Linked DNA regions of Homo sapiens: region 1 is linked to region 2. The links come from fine-mapping of genetic effects on gene expression. Tissue or cell type: B cells. Region 2 holds a variant in brackets; the other region holds the start of a gene. All regions are shown on one strand. Distances are from middle to middle.

Region 1 (8,109 bases), 440 kb before region 2:
GTTTTTGTTTTGTTTTGTTTCGTTTTGTTTGAGACGGAGTCTCGCACTGTCGCCCAGGCTGGAGTGCAGTGGCAGGATCTCAGCTCACTGCAACCTCTGCCTCCTGGGTTCAAGCGATTCTCCTACCTCAGCCTCCCAAGTAGCTGGGATTATAGGCATGTGCCACCACGCCCGGCTAATTTTTGTATTTTTAGTAGAGATGGGCTTTCGCCACGTTGGCCAGGCTGGTCTTGAACTCCTGACCTCAGGTGATCTGCCCACCTCGGCCTCCCAAAGTGCTAGGATTACAGGCGTGAGCCACCACGCCCAGCCGATACCACCTCTTAATGTAAGAGTGGCAAGGTTGCACTGCAGAACAGCATGCCACCCTGTAGAGACTGGGGTTCAGGATGCAGATCCAAGATATTGCTGTGGCTGCTGATTTTGCTGTGAATAATAAACTGTCTTTGTTTCGGATCCAGAGGCTTTATATTTTCTCTCAGAGTGTTAGAGTGTGGTGATCAACTAAATTTTCAGCTTGCTAGTAGGGTAAAATCTTAGATTATAACAGCTTCTGACCTACTACTGTGGAGTACCCTCCTTGGAGTGTGGCTGTGATTTGTGCATGGATTCCTATAGCTGAATGGGGAAGGGAGCTGAGCAGGTAGGGGATTACTTCTCTGGATCATTCATCAAGAGCAATGCTTGGGTGCTCTATTGCTGCACAAAAAATCACCCCAAAACCTAGTGGCTTAAAACCATAATTCATTAGTTTTCAAAAATCTGTGAGTCAATTGTATGATTCATCAGCTTCATGTGGTGTTGGCTAGGCCACCAGAATGACTGAAAGGCTTGAAATGGCCTCACTCACATAGCTGGCAGTTAGTGCTGGCTTCTGGCCATGCTGCCTGGGGAACTCAGCTAGGGCTATTGGCTGAGAGCTTTGGTTCTCTTCCATATGGGCCTCTCCCTGTGGCTGCTTGGGCTTCCTCAGAGTATGGCAGCTGACTTCCAAGAAGGAGTATGCACAGAAAGCAAACTGGAAGTTGCAAATCCCTTAAGGGTTAGCCTTGGAAATTATACAGCATCACCTCTGCTACATTCTATTGGTCAAAGGGGTTACAGGGCCAGTCCACATTCAAGGAGAAGGTAAACAGAATCCACCTCTTGATGTATGAGTGGTAAGATCACCTTGCAAAAGAGTGTGTGGGATGGGGGATATTATTGCAGCAGTCTTTGGAAGCACAATCTATCAAATGGACGTAGATGGGGGACTATACAATAGTATTTCTCCAAGTGCAGCAAGCCCCGCATCAGAATCATGGGAGCATTTGCTGAAAATGCAGACTGGGGCTGATTCTTGCACACTAACATTTGAGATCTGGTGAGCTGCAGAACAAAGCCCAAACTTCTTGGCCTACCACCAGTCCAGATCCTCACTTATCTTGTCTGACTTTATGCTCCAGTAACACTCGATTTCTTGGCATTCTCTTGCACATAATAAGCTATTTAACCTACAGATAGAGTTTGGATGTTTGTGCCGTCCAAATCTCATGTTGAAATGTGAGCCCTAATGTTGGAGTTGGGGCTGAGTAAGGGGTGTCTGGGTTGCAAACTGGATTGTGAACATCCTGAAGGTGGACCCCTCAGGAAAGGCTTTGTGCCCTCCCCGTGGTAATGAGTGAATCCTCGTTCTATGAGTTCATGCAAGAGCTGGTCGTTTGAAAGAGTCTGGTGCCTCCCTCACCTTTCACTTGCTCCTTCTCTCACCATTTGACATGCCTGTTTCCTCTTCGCCTTCCACCATGATTGTAAGCTTGCTGAGGCCCTTACCAGAAGCAGATGCCAGCACAATGCTTCTTGTACGGTCTGCAGAACTGTGAGCCAAAATAAACTTCTTTTCTTTATAAATTACCAGGTCTCTGGTATTCCTTTACAGCAAAGCAAAACAGATTAATATACCTACTAATCCACACCTTTGCCCATAACTGTGCCTTCTGCCTGGAATAACTTGACTCCTTTGCCTCATCAAGGATTTACTCATCTTTAAAGATTCAGTTTTATGTCACCTTTTTGGGGAAGTTTTCCTGACCTCCTCTTCTCCTATGGATTGGGGTAGGTGTTCCACATCCTGTGCAATTGTCCCCATTATAGCACTTGCCAACTTGTAATGTCATTGTTAATTTGTCTGTCCCCTTCACTGGATTGTGAACATCTTAGGCAGGGATATGTCAGATTCATCTCTGTCCTCTAAATCCTAAGTGTACTTAACTGAATTGGAAGTATGACAGTGTCACAGTGAATTCCTCTTTGGCCTAATGTTTCTTAAAGAATATGGTACTTAAAATATGCTTAAAGTTGCACTGTTTTCTTTCTGACAATTCTCAGCACAGCTAAGATGCTTGCAGCTACTTGTAACAAAATACCCAACTAAAAGTGGGTGTCTTAGTGTGCTTAGGCTGCCAAAACAAAATACCATAGACTGGGTGGCTTAAACAACAGAAATTTTCTCACAACTCTGGAGGCTGGAAAGTCCAAGATTAAGTGTCCAGCAGGGACCTAGTAAGGGCTCTGTTCCTGGCTTGCAGATGGCCACCTTCTTGCTGTGTACTCACACGGCCTTTTCTCAGTGTGTGCATGTGAGTGCATGAGATCAAGCTCTCTGGTGACCCTTCTTAAAAAGCACCAGTTCCATCAGACTAGAGCTTGGCCCTCATGACCTAATTGCCTCTCAAAGACCCCATCTCCAAATACCATCACACAGGGAATTAGGGCTTCAACATATGGACTTCAGGGGGATGAAAACATTCAGTCCATAACAGTGGGTTAACCATTTGATTTAATAATTTTAGAAAGCCAGCAACCTGCAGTCGGTGATTCTCCAGTGTGAGATAGGAGCTATTATTGTCTGGGGATCTTCCTTTCCTTCCTCCTAGCCCTCCTCACTCTGTCATCTTCTTACCCCAGGCTCACCTCCTCTTGTGCGTAAGATGGCTGTCGGGGCTTCAGGCATCATATCCTCAAAGTTCAGTTTGAAGTTATTAAGCTGGTGGGGCAGGATGGGTCTGGGATGGGCATGAGTAACTCCCTGTCTGCAGATCTGCCTTTTAACAGTGAGCAAATTGTTCCCTTTATATCTTCTTTTCCAGACCTGGGTCGCAGGCCTCCTGTCTACACCCAGAGCAATCACAGGCAAAGAGGCTTAATCACGAGCCACACACCCACTCCCAACTTAATCAGGGGTGAGGTGAGAGGGGATGAGCTGTTGGATATTCGAACCCAAACAAAATGAGCAAGGAAATAAATCTAGCCCAGAAAGCAAATGTCCTAAATGCCTCACCAAGATATTGGCTTGATGTTCATAGCAGTGATTTTTTAATCAACAGAAGTTAAATGTTACTCTTAACATAAACCATGGGCGGAAGCTCCGAGGGCGGCATCAGAACACTTGGTTGCCCTACAGATGGCAAGGGGGTGGGTTTGTGGCGGGGCGGCGGGGTGCGTATGGAGGGGGAGAGTGGAGGGAAGAATGGGGTGGGGAGGAATTGCTAAAATGCACGGAATTGCTCCTGCTTCAAGATGTCAAGACCGAGGGAGCTTGAGCTGTTCTATACCTTTTCCGGGAAGGACAACTGAGGTGGGAAATCATTTTTGATACTTGAATGTCTTCAAACTTCTTTTTACACCCCACGTCTCTGCAGTCAACCCGGTGTGACTATAGAGTGAAGCACGCTACGCATAATCCGTTTGGGGATTCCGAACCCCAGTGGCTCTGTACGCACCCAGGTCGCTGGAGCAGGAGGTCCCAGATCCCCGCTGTAAGGCTCCGTGGGCGAGCGCCCAGGTGGGGCTGGGCGAGGTGGGGGTTCCCGGCGCCGGCCCCGCGCGCCGCCCTCCCCGCCCCCGCTCCCGCCCCCCGACCCCCGCGCGCGCGGCCTTGTGGGTAACGCGGGGCCGCCAGGTGACAGCTAATGGCGGCGGCCGCCTGAGGCGGGCGGGCGGTATAGAGCGGGCGGCAGGAGGCAAGCAGCGAAACCTTCCCGGCCGCCGCTCCCGTCCCGACGGCGGCTTCCCCAAGGCGGCAGGACTCGGCGCGCCATGGACAGGCCGGCGGCGGCGGCGGCGGCGGGCTGCGAGGGCGGCGGGGGCCCGAACCCGGGGCCGGCGGGCGGCAGGAGGCCTCCTCGGGCCGCGGGGGGCGCCACCGCCGGCTCCCGGCAGCCCAGCGTGGAGACCCTGGACAGGTAAGCGGGGCCCGGGCTGCCCCGGCCTCCCGCGCCCCGACTCCCGAGGGCCCCGCGCGAGGCCAGCCCGCCCCCTCCCCGCGCGCTGCGCAGGGCCTGGCGGTGGCGGGGTGGGCGGCCCCTCTTCATCCCCTCTGGGCCCTCCTCCCCCCCACCCCCGGAAACCTCAGCGCCCCATCCGGGGACTGCTGCCCTCGGACCTGCTGCGGGCCGCGCACCTGGCTCACTTCCGCCCCGAGAGCCCCAGCTCCTGGAACCCCGGGAGGGGCTTCGCAGCTGTCAAACCACTTCCGGCGCCGCCACCTGCTGCCCTTGGCGATCGCTTGGCTGTCCCTGCCCAGGCCACCAATCCTCTTGGGAGGGAGATCCCACCCGGGCTCTCCTCTTCTAGCATCACCTTGCCTCGTGTGGTTTTAAGACCCCAATTCTGCTGTGGCTGCTTAGGGTCTTTGATGGGGGGTTGGGAGTGAGGACGGGGAGATGGGACCCCGCGGGCGTGGGAGCTGGTGCAGATCGAGGCAAAAATCTGAGATGGAAAACGTCCAAACTGCTCAGGAGGCAAGAAAACAGAACCATTTACTTTCAGTTCTTCACACTTTGAGGGAACCAGTTTATTGTTTTCATGAACACACAAGCAAGCCTACTGCTTCTGAGGCAGCTGCAGAACTAAGAGAAATCAGTTAGAAACATAAAGTGACCGTGTCGAACTGGGAGGGGCCACCGCCTCCTCCGACGACAAGAGATGGCCTATCGTGTAACCCGGAACATCCAGTTTTCCCACAACTTGGCCATTTCCCTGACACCAGAGTGCACTCAGGCAGCATGCACTGTTGGAATGTAGCTCAGTCAGTTTTACATGCCCATTCCTGCCTGTCTTGGTCATCCCATTGTGCCAAACTTTTGGGAGTTTCCAAAAGCACAGAAACAAGAAACATTCCCTTCACTTTTGTTTCTACCTCAGTGTAATTACAATATATTTTAATAAATTAATCACCCAAGTGGTTAGTGTCACTGAAAACCAGTCACAGCTAAGACAGCACTTGAAATGGTGAGGACTTCACTCATCTGCAAATATTCAACCACACACGAGGTCTGGGCGATTCAGAGAATAGCACAACACGGCTTTTGCTGCCTTACCATTTTGCTAGACTTACCATCTAGTGGAGAATACAAACCAACCAACAGTGGAAATCGAATGTGATAAATGAGATAGGTGGTAGAGGCGAACACAGAAGTACTCAGGATGGGCATGCATCAGAATCATTTAAGAAGCCAAAGGAGACCAGAATGTGTCACCCCCAAATATGCCTCATCTTCTGGTTTCCTTCAGAGATTTTGATGATCAGGGAAAGCCTGAGAAAGCTGACATTTGAGTAATGCCCCCAAAGAGGCGAGGGATCCAGCCATACAGATACCTGGGGGTGATAGTATTCTAGTCAGAGGCCTGTGCAAAGCCCCTGAGGTGAATGTGAGCCAAGTGTTCCTAGATCAGCGAGGAGACTAGGTGTCACTAGCAGGGAGGGAGCTAGGGAGAGACAAGTAAGGGATGACGTTAGAGAAGTCACAGAGCCAGATGGTGGAGAGCCTCAGAGGCCATGGGGAGCCACTGGGGACTTTGTGCAGAGGAGTGACATCATCTGTTGTAGATTTCAGTAGGCTCTCCATGGTGCTATGTGGACAATAGAGTGAAAGGGGAAGGAGCTGAAGCAGAGACTGTCAGTAGGAGGCTATTGTAGTAAGCCAAGTGAGATGGTGGTCCAGAGTGGAGCGGAGGAGGGGAGAAGTGGTCAGATACTACATGTAATTTGAAGACCTGCAGGGTAGAGCCAATGGGGTTTGCTGAAGATTGGTTGGTTGGTATGAGAGAAGAATCTGGGAGAATTCCAAAATTTTAGCTTGTGGGAAAATTGTGTTGCTGAGATGGAGAAGTCTTTCTAAGGTGGAGCAGGGTTAGAAAATAGCAGGCTCTTCGCTCTGGACATATCAATTTTGAGATGCCAATTATATGTCCCAGAATAGATGTCAAAGATATAGTTGATCTATCTGAGCCTGGAGTTCAGGGTTGTCTGGGCTGGAGATTCAAACTGGGGAGTCATGGGCTTATAGATGAGGCTTAAATTCATGAGGCAGGTGGAGTTCACAGAAGAATGATGGAGGTCTGGAAAAGGGAATTGGGCTAGGAATAGGGCTGGGTGGATTTTCAAGATGCTTACCAGGTAAGAGTGACCCGACATGGTGAGCATTCAGATGTGAGGGGGGAGTGCCGGGTGGACTCCAAGGCAAACCTCAGCTTTCTAGCGTGTGGGGGCCGGATAACTGGCTGTGCTGCGCCCTGAGTTAGGAAACACAGGAGCAGAGTAGGTTGCGGGGCTGAGCGGCTGATGCTGGTTTAGACAGGTTGAATTGGCAGGGTCTCTGGGCCAGACTAGTGGACAGGTCTTGTAGGAACATCAGCATTGAGATCAGGAGAGTCCAGGTTGGAGAAACAGAGCTGGGAGCCTCCAGCCTGTAAGTAGTTATTGACACCAGGAGTATAGAGGGCAATTGCACAGACTACAGAGAAGGGATGGGGGAGGAATCATGGCCTCCTTTCTCAGTTCTGTCAGCTCAACAAGCTCAGATTCACACTTTTCTTTGAAGAGTGACCTCTAGAATGGAACCTGGCTCTATGGGTGGGACTTGGCCATGTCCCTGGGACTATGGGGCCTTCACTTCTCTTCTGAATACTGTAATTAATAATGAGGAAGCTGTGGTCCTGTAAGAGGATGTGTCTTGCCAAAGATCATGGAGTTAGCTGGTGACAGAAGCAGGACTCATGTCCAGGCCTCCTGTCTGCTAACCCACTGTGCTTCACTGTGTGTAACTACATTGGCCAGGATGCTTCTGGTTGCAGGTGACAGAAACCACAGTTCAATCTAGCTTAAGGCAAATGAGATGCCCTGGCTCACAGAACTGCTCCAGACAGGAGGAGAGATGGCCACAGGCACAGTTGAGGTCAGGATTGCAAACAGTGTTGTCGGGACTCCCCATCTCTCTCTCCCTCTCTCTTTTATTTTCCCTCACTTTTTAATCGCTGTGAGTTCCTTAAGATGGTAGGGGTGGGGTGGGGTGGGGAGTGGCCTCCAGCAGCTCTGGATACAGATCCATGTATTTCAGGATCCAAGGGGAAAAGTCTGGGATTGGCTGGTCCTAGGTAACTCACCTACAAGTGGGAGCAGGTGGAGGAAGGGGTCAACCTTCTTCTCCGCTTTCCCCCACAGAAGCCTGTGTTGTGGGGAAGGGCAGTTCCCAAAGTAAAGAGGAAGGTCTTTATCAGAAGAAGGGGGAAGGCATGCCGGGCAGGCAGGTGGTAATAGCAGGTCACACTCATGCTCAGCAGTTGGGTTTCTGCAGTTTCTTCCTGTATTTGCAACTGGTGGGTGCTGACAGAAAAAGGCATTATGACAAGAAAAGTATGATATACGTGGGAATGAAAGTGACTTAACCTTTAAAAAGGAAACAAATCTCTCCCTTTTCTCTCCTTCTCCCCCTCAGGTCGAAATTGTGGTATATAGATTCCTGGCATGTGATAGGAATTTCTGCTCATTCAGTATTTTCAACCATACAGATAACCTCTGGTCTGTTTTGATCAGAGACTGCAATTTGGATCACTAGCACAGAACTTCAGTTTTCTTTCTTTTACTATTTGGGTCATTTTCCATATTGCCTGGGGATTCCAGGTGTTTCTGTCCTTCAGATATGTGAGTGTGGGTTTAATTAGTGATATGATTTTTTTTTTAAAGGCCTGAAACATTCTTTACAGTGAAAGCTACCTGCAAGGTAAACTTTTGTCGGTGTTTTTAGCCCTCTAGCTTGATTTCTTAGTGTTTTGCCAAATTGTGAGAGG
Region 2 (8,109 bases):
CAATTTCAAATTTCTATGTTTATCCAAAAGACGGTAAACACCAGTTCTGTGAGACAATTGGCCGGTTTCAGTCCTCTATTTCTACTTATCAGTTCCTCAATCATGGGGAATCTGGTGGTTGATCTTTCTGACTGCTTTATGCTGAGGAAGGGCATTATATGATACTGATGAGGAATGAAAATGTTACCCCTGTAATTGGAAGTATTCATAAGTACCTGGTCAGCATCTGACTTGTTGGAACACCAGGACCTGGATACTTTAATGGTTTTAGAACAACATTTTAAGTCACATTGACTAGGATGATTAATAACATGGATAACCTAAATTTTAAAACACCAAAGGATATGGAGTGGATCCCTTGGGGAATCCAATAAAATAATCGCGAAAGCTACATGTTCCCTTTATGATTTTTTAACTAGGGTCTTTCACTGGACTTTAGATATTAAGGCCATCTGAGGGTTCACAAGACCATGACTGATTCCCTGGGAGAGATTCCAGAGGGACTGGTTTTACCCGAGTATAGTGAATCCACGACTTAGCACCAGCTAACTTGACAGATGAGTGAGTGATCAGCAGCACCTCCAAAGGGCTGACCCATTGTGGTTGCAGCTCATCTACAGCTTGGTGGGATTTCCAGGTCTTCAGCAGGACTTGGGATCTCCCAGTTTCAAAAAGTGGAGAGGTACATCTCTAGGGAACTGAAGCCTGTTGGAAGCAAACTTAGAGACTAGTTAATATATTTCCTAATTGTTTTATATATGACCTAGCTTCTGTGTCAGAGGAGGAAAAATACTAAAGTGTCAAGGAGTCTGGAGGTTAGAGAAATGGTCTTCCATACATTTTGGAGGCTCTAAAAGCCAATCCACTTTTAGGGGCTACCCACATCCTCAGCAGGGCAAGGGACAAGACCTTTTCCCAGTTAAGATTTATCTCTTGGCAACTGGGGTCCCCTTGGCCACAAGTGGGCCTACTCAGTCAATGGGGGGCTTAGGAATTTATTTTGTCCCATAGTGTTGCCAAGGTGGTGTGGCTACATGTTTTAGGTCCATCTCATCCCTCAGTGGGACCTCTATAGCCAAGGGACATAGAGTCAAAAGACTAACAGCCAATTAAACACTGTAGACCAGACAAGAATGGAGGGGGGCAGGCACTCATTAACACTTAAAACCCTTTAAGCAACATAATAGCCAAAAACTAAAAGCCAAAAAGTAAGGTTACAGAATTGCTTATGAATCAAAGGAATTTCCTTTGCCATTTAAGAATGGAAGCCCAGTTCCCTGCACCCCTGCCCGCCAAGCTGAGTTGTATGTTCAGCATCGGCCTAGAACAGTGAGATCTTTTGAAGGTTACATAAGGACACATACAACCACCACAAAAGAACATACATAACTAATTTTATTTGTCAAAATTGGCCCTTACAATCTCATGTGCCTGCCCCCCTTCTGCAATAGTTCCTGGGCCTAGATGGATTGGATAGTTTTAATTCCTGGCCCTGTGTCTCATGAAAGCAGTTCATTTTGATTGCTGCCTTCTCCTGGGTCTAAAGATGAGGCTTTGACTGGTGTCAATGTTCAAGATTTAGCAGGTATCGGCACCTTTTTCAGACCCAGGAGTCAAGACCCTGTAACTTAACAGCACAAGGATTAGTTAATAGGATGCTTATCAAAGAAATTAAAAGACTTGAAACGTTTTATTAAAACAGAATCACAGGTCATTGTAAAATAACAGTTATTCATTTAACCAAAAGTGATCATCAAAAGGCTTTAAAAGCAATATAGAAATAAAATTACAATAAAGGGGCACTCTACCCATAATATGCAGACAGACTACTTTGCTGTAAAATAAGTTTCTATCTACAATATAAATGATCGAGTATAATATATGCATTTATGCTAAAAACAGAAGCCAATGTTTAATGAAACATTTAAAGACATAAAAAAAGAACATTTAGAAATTAGTGCTTCAGTTTACTAATACTGCAGAAAGTCCTATTATTCTCTCTAACATGTCACAAATTAAAACACTGTGATTTGGTCTCCAGTAGTTACTGCCTGCAGCACTTCAAACCACTGCCCCAGAAATACACTGACTACAGAGGAGGAGACAGCCCCTGCAGGAGTTAAAGATGCCAAGGACAGAATAACTGTGCTAGAATGTGCTAATGCCACAGGCACACATAACTGTCAGCTTACTGTGGTAGGCAAAAGCTTGCATTTTTGTTGTTTTCAAGGAGTGAATTTCTTTTAAGTCCATTATTATGCTAACAATAAGGCATGGATCGCTAGCGATGCCTTTTCTGATTGGTTTCACAATTTGTACCAGCAGCTTGTGCTCACTTCAGGGAAGCTGGACTGGGTGACCATTGCAAGATTTAGTTATTCCTTGACAATTGTTTTGCTCGTTCCTCAGCTGAAATTCTCATTAAAAATAATGTTTATACCATGTATTTCCCCCAAATGTGACTCTATTAACTCAGCCATGTGACTGGGGTATCCTTAACTCACTGAAGAGTAAATATTTAAAAAAAAAACTTTATCGAACAGCATGCTAGTAGCAATGAAGAAAGGTATGGGTGTGGAAGGTTTTTAAAAGGAGTTGGGCATAAATGATACCATATATACTGTTACTAATGCTTGGAAAACAGTGACTAAGGACACAGCCGTGCATGCCTGGCACAACCTCTGGCCTGTGATTATGCTCAGTAATGATGAACAATCCAGTTTTTCATTCATTAACCAGTGGTGGAAGAGTCAACATGATCCTGAATAAAGGTGATATGATCATAGCAATGATGAAGATGACATTATTAACACTGCAGAAAAAGTGCCTTTAGATGATATGGTGAAAATGTATGATGGGCTTATTGGAGGACTAGAGCAGTATGCATTCATAACAAATAAGAAATAAGAAATCATGTCAGTTTATAAAATCAAGAAGAGAAAAACTGTTGTTAATGAGACAAATTACTCTGGAGGAAACACTTTAAAAAGTCATCTAGCAGAATGCCTCCTCATCCCTAAAGGGCCTACTTCCTGGTTTCTCCACTGCTTGTGGTATTTCTTCTCACCTAAAAAATAAAATACAGTGTACAGTACCCATTTTAATGGAAACACAGCATCATACGTGGAGATTGAAAATGTGGTATTGTATGTTGTTGCTGTTGTTGAACAGCTGACACAGGAATTCTGGTGGTGCTACTGTGCTGCTTAGTTACTTGAACACATTATGTT[T/G]TCACTGTATGAATGATATGTCATATTTTTTACTGTTAAGTACTTGTGTGTAAACAAGTGTAAGAAAGTGATTGCTTATTCGTAGCATATAAATTCAGAGTTAGGAATAATGGATGCCAAACAACCACAGATTATCCACATGGATGGCTGAGATAGTGACACCTTTGCTTTCTGATGGTTCTATATACACAAACCTTGTTTCATGCACAAGATTATTAAAAACATTATATTGGCCGGGCACAAGTGGCTCATGCCTGTAATCCCAGCACTTTGGGAGGCCAAGGTGGGTGGATCACTTGAGGTCAGGAGTTTGAGACCAGCCTGGCCAACATGGCAAAACCCCGTCTCTACTAAAAATACAAAAATTAGCCATGTGTGGTGGTTTATGTCTGTAATCCCAGCTACTTGGGAGGCTGAGGCAGCATCACTTGAACCTGGGAGGCAGAGGTTGTAGTGAGCCAAGATCATGCCACTGCACTCCATCCTGGGCAACAGAGTGAGACTCTGTCTCAAAAAAAAGTATAAAATTACCAAAAAATAAAGTGATTAGGTTACTCCTTGCACATATCTAATTGGTAGCATTTTAGTGATGGAACTGTGACCTAAAGCATCAGAAATGTTATAGGTCCTATGGCAAACATATCTAAGTAAGACAATTAACTTTTCTCTCCATCATTTAAAAAATGGTAAATGCAAATATCAGTTTTGGAATTCAGTGTGAGGATAAATAAGTTCCTTTCACTCAAATATTATCCAACAAAACAGGGACAGAGTAAGAACAGGTACAGAATAATTTCTTTTCAGCTATTTTAAAAGAGTATCATCACACATTTCCATGATTGGTTTCTAGATACAGTACTGACAACTGATTCAGTAACTTTCACCACTGGAATCTTCAAACCACTGCAACACTTGTACATATTTTGTTTTCAGGCACACATATGAGGGCCTGACAGTGATAAAAGTCTTGGGACCAAATATCACTAGAAAGCCTCACATTTTTATTATTACTGCTTAATCCAAGTGAATGTCATTTAATTTTAATAATGGTAAATGCAACTAAAGTAGTCTGAGAGAAATAGCAGTGAATGTAATTTCCTTAAGGACAAGGCCAATCTTTCATGAACATTAAAACTTTGTACACATATCACGATTTTTCCTCAATACCTGAAGGAAAAGATCTGAAACCAACCCAAATTATTAATTGAATTGAATTAACTTGGAGATAAACACCATTTAAACACTTTCAACTACATTTCCAAATAACAAACCAATGTACTATTTCTGTTCAGAACTTACAAAAATAAATCTTTTATTTGATTTTTTTTGCCAGGAACCTTAAAGCTCTTATACCTCTCTAGATCATGAGAGGTGAGCAAAATCAATCAAAGTTTAAGTGAACAGTGCGTTCTATCAATTTTTAGAGGCTTAATAAAGTAGCTTAGTAATTTCAGATAAATAGAGCAAATGATATATTTTTGGAAATGCACAGGAAACACAAGACTATTCATAGAACCAAATGAAAGTTCTCTATTAGAAACTAGACAGCATATATATATATATATATATATATATACACACACACACACACACACACATATATATACACATATACATACATATACATATGTATATCTTGTATGATAAATTTTTGTCCTAAGTAAAATGGTTACTTATTTTAAAAAGAAAAAAAATTACAACAAAATAGAATGTCTAAGCATGTAGGTATGTATATATACATACATATGTGTAGGTATGTATATATACATACATATGTGTAGGTATGTATATATACATACATATGTGTAGGTATGTATATATACATACATATGTGTAGGTATGTATATATACATACATATGTGTAGGTATGTATATATGTATATATAAGTAAAACCCAAAGGAGAACAAATAGCAAAATTAAAATGAAAAGCAAAAACAAACAAGAAAACAACCCCCAGGTTTTCTCCTACTCAGTTCACCTTAAAGGCTCCAGCATTACCCAGAGCCTAAAAAAAACACATGAGGGATATTTTGTTCCTGGTATACAAATTAATGTCTTTAAGTCCACCAATACCAGTATAGATTTTATGCAATTAAGAAATTCACTTTAGGCACATGACTAGTAAGTACTTAGTGTTAGTACTGTCTATGCAGCATAGCAAATACATTGTGAAGTAAAGGAATGCAAACATTTATGTGAAATTTGGCTCCATGTTAAATCTGGCTTCATGCTTAACTACATTGAAAAAGAATGGCCAAACTGCCAATGTATTTCTTTACAATATTTCCTATTTTACCTTAATCAAAATTAAGAGCTTTAACTATGAGCAATGTTAGCCAAATTTCTCCATTTTTTATTAGGTTTTAACAAATATTTTATTATCTAAACTTTTTAAACTTTCTATTTTCTTTGTATGTGCATGAAGATAGACACACAGAGAACCAGAAAAAAAAAAACACAACTGTATATGATTTACACAGACCATCCATGACATGCTTGGACATTCTATTTTGTCCTAATTTTTTTCTTTTTAAAATAACTAACCATTTTACTCAGGACAAAAATTTATTTTACAAGGTTCTTTCTCATATGAAATTATTCTTTCTTTATAAACTTCCTTATTAAAAATACATCTTCATATCCACAACTTTCTTCAAATCTCTCTCCCCTACTTATTGGTTTCTTTCTACCTTGTTTCATAAATAACCTTTTCAAGTCCATAATTTGAATAAACCTTCAGACAACTTCCGAATTAAACATAATTATTCTTTTTCTTAACAGGAACACATCTTCTTTAGCACATTTTATATACAGAATTATCTATTAACTATACTTCTTATTCTTAGTAACCATAAATTTTAGTGAAAACCAAGGAAGCAGAAAATCCTGAACTATCAAATGTTAGCATTTTCTAGATGAGAACCATTCCACACTTTAAAAAATTGTTTCCCCATGTCAGAATGCTTTCACAATTGAAAGTGACCCAGGCATCCAATGAGCATCCAAAATGATCTTAAGATTTTAAGTTACACAAAATGTTCACATACAGCATTTATCCCATTTACATTTCATTCGTTTTTAGCAGTTTATCTACATAACTTATGAGAACTGAGATATTAGACAAAGCTAGTCGTCATTTCATTTTTATAACCTGTGCATAGTAGGTGTGCACCTAAGTAAGAATCTTTAAGTTAAATACATGGGTATTTTTACCAATAATTCAGAAGATTCAGCTGTGAAACCAACAACATTAAATTGGTCTTATTTGTCAAAAGTCACACAAACAGAGATCATTTTGGTTTTGGCTAGATTTATAGTTTTATAACCTTTCGTGCCAAATCCTGACACCTCAAAGTATCTAGCATGGACAAATGTAAAATCCAGACAAAAATGTATGCTGACAATTTTAAAGACATTTCTATTTTTATTTTACCAATAATTTTAAAGCCAGCTTGTTTATTAAAGAAGATATATTCAAGTCATGTGAACTTGAAAAATGCTAGGACATATTTATTTAACTTATGTGCTCCTTTAATTTAAGCACTCTCAATTATAAGCCAATTTGGAAGACACAACATATAACCTAATAAATGTACATACAAATAAACACATCTAGACATGTATATACATGCACAAAGTTCCAATGGCTTTTACCTTGGAACTCTAGCCATAAGATAGCAATACAAGCTCACTAGTTTATGAACATTTTCACATTGCTAAATTTTGTTTGCCCTGGTAGGTAATCCAGTTATGGTTGTGAACCAAAATTTGGAGTAAAGCAGTTTCCATGGCATTTTGATTTTTAAAGGCCAAACGTCTTTAGACTCCAAAGAACTCCAGGGCCAAACAGTACCACAGAAGAACATCACGTATTAACCAGGCCTGATTCTGCTTAGAACAACAGCATAAAAGCCTGAATACATGAAATTCTATCCTGCTTTCTCATTCAACAACAAAATGAGACCCATGGAGAGGTGAAGCTGTTCCAGACTCCAAAGAATAGTGGGGCCAAACAGTATTATAAAAGATGATTTGTTTATCAAATTCTGATTTCCTGTGACTATACTGACACACACACACACACACACACACACACCATCACCAAAACACAATCCAACTGCTGTACCAACCAACAAGCCCCAAGAGGGCCCAAACTAAAACAGTAGGGGTGCTTCCTCTCTCAGTCAGTTGGGCTTGTTCAACCTGCACACAGAAATTCCTTCAGAGTTTCCCAAAATGAGAGGAGCAGATCCTGCTGTCTAGTATTAGTGCTGGCAGCTGCGGAGCCAGAGAGAAACTGAAAGTTACCTCCGGCTAAAAAAGGGATGGGCAGCTGCTTAGGAGGGCTTCTGAAACTCCTGGCCCACAGCAACTAAGCCATGAGCAATGCATTCCCAGTTAGGGAATCAAAGTCTGTTACTGAAATGCCAGGGGTTTGGACTAGGTCCTGCTGCTGGCCACACAGACAGCCAATCACCAGGATGATGAATTTTGCCAGGGAAGAAGGCTGTAGTCGGGTGCAGCAGCCAAGGAGATGGGAGATCAGTCTCAAATCCATCTGTCTGACTGACTAAAGTTAGGGGTTTATATAGCAGGAAGAAATGTAACTACATGCCAGAAAACAGGAATTACAGAGGGATAAAGAAGAGGAGTTGGTAAACAGGCATCATGATGGATGAGGGGTCTGGCATCCCATTGTTTGGATGTGGTGATCTGGTGAGTTTAAATTCCTTGAACTATCTGGGAGGCCCGAGGGTTGGTTTCCTCAGGAAGAAACTCAGATAAGACAAATGCAAGTTTCAGGCTTTAAGACCAAGAGGGTCAGTTTCAAGTTTCTATGTTTATCCAAAAAACAGTAAACATTAGTTCTATGTGCCA

Alleles and levels. Positions count from the first base shown, and alleles are read on the strand shown. Sizes are in standard deviations (SD) of each study's normalised expression.
As copies of T replace G in region 2, the expression in B cells of the gene that starts at base 3,943 in region 1 goes down (moderate effect, 0.52 SD a copy in Fairfax 2012).

Evidence for each region. PIP is the estimated chance that this variant, and not a neighbour inherited with it, causes the effect.
Region 1: it holds the start of MTMR1, and the variant in region 2 is fine-mapped to the expression of MTMR1 in B cells (Fairfax 2012, PIP 0.95).

Annotation. Positions count from the first base shown.
Region 1 is chrX:150,689,454-150,697,562 of GRCh38, forward strand. MTMR1 (myotubularin related protein 1) reads left to right here and starts at 3,943. Exons shown (of 16, transcript NM_001306144.3): 1 at 3,943-4,223. The coding sequence starts at 4,078. RefSeq lists silencers at 3,874-3,943, 4,254-4,393 and enhancers at 5,287-5,386, 5,407-5,486.
Region 2 is chrX:151,130,041-151,138,149 of GRCh38, forward strand. No RefSeq gene overlaps it. Among named protein-coding and RNA genes, the nearest start is that of MIR4330, 34 kb to the right of the region's middle. The variant T/G (reference allele first, on the strand shown) is at 3,231.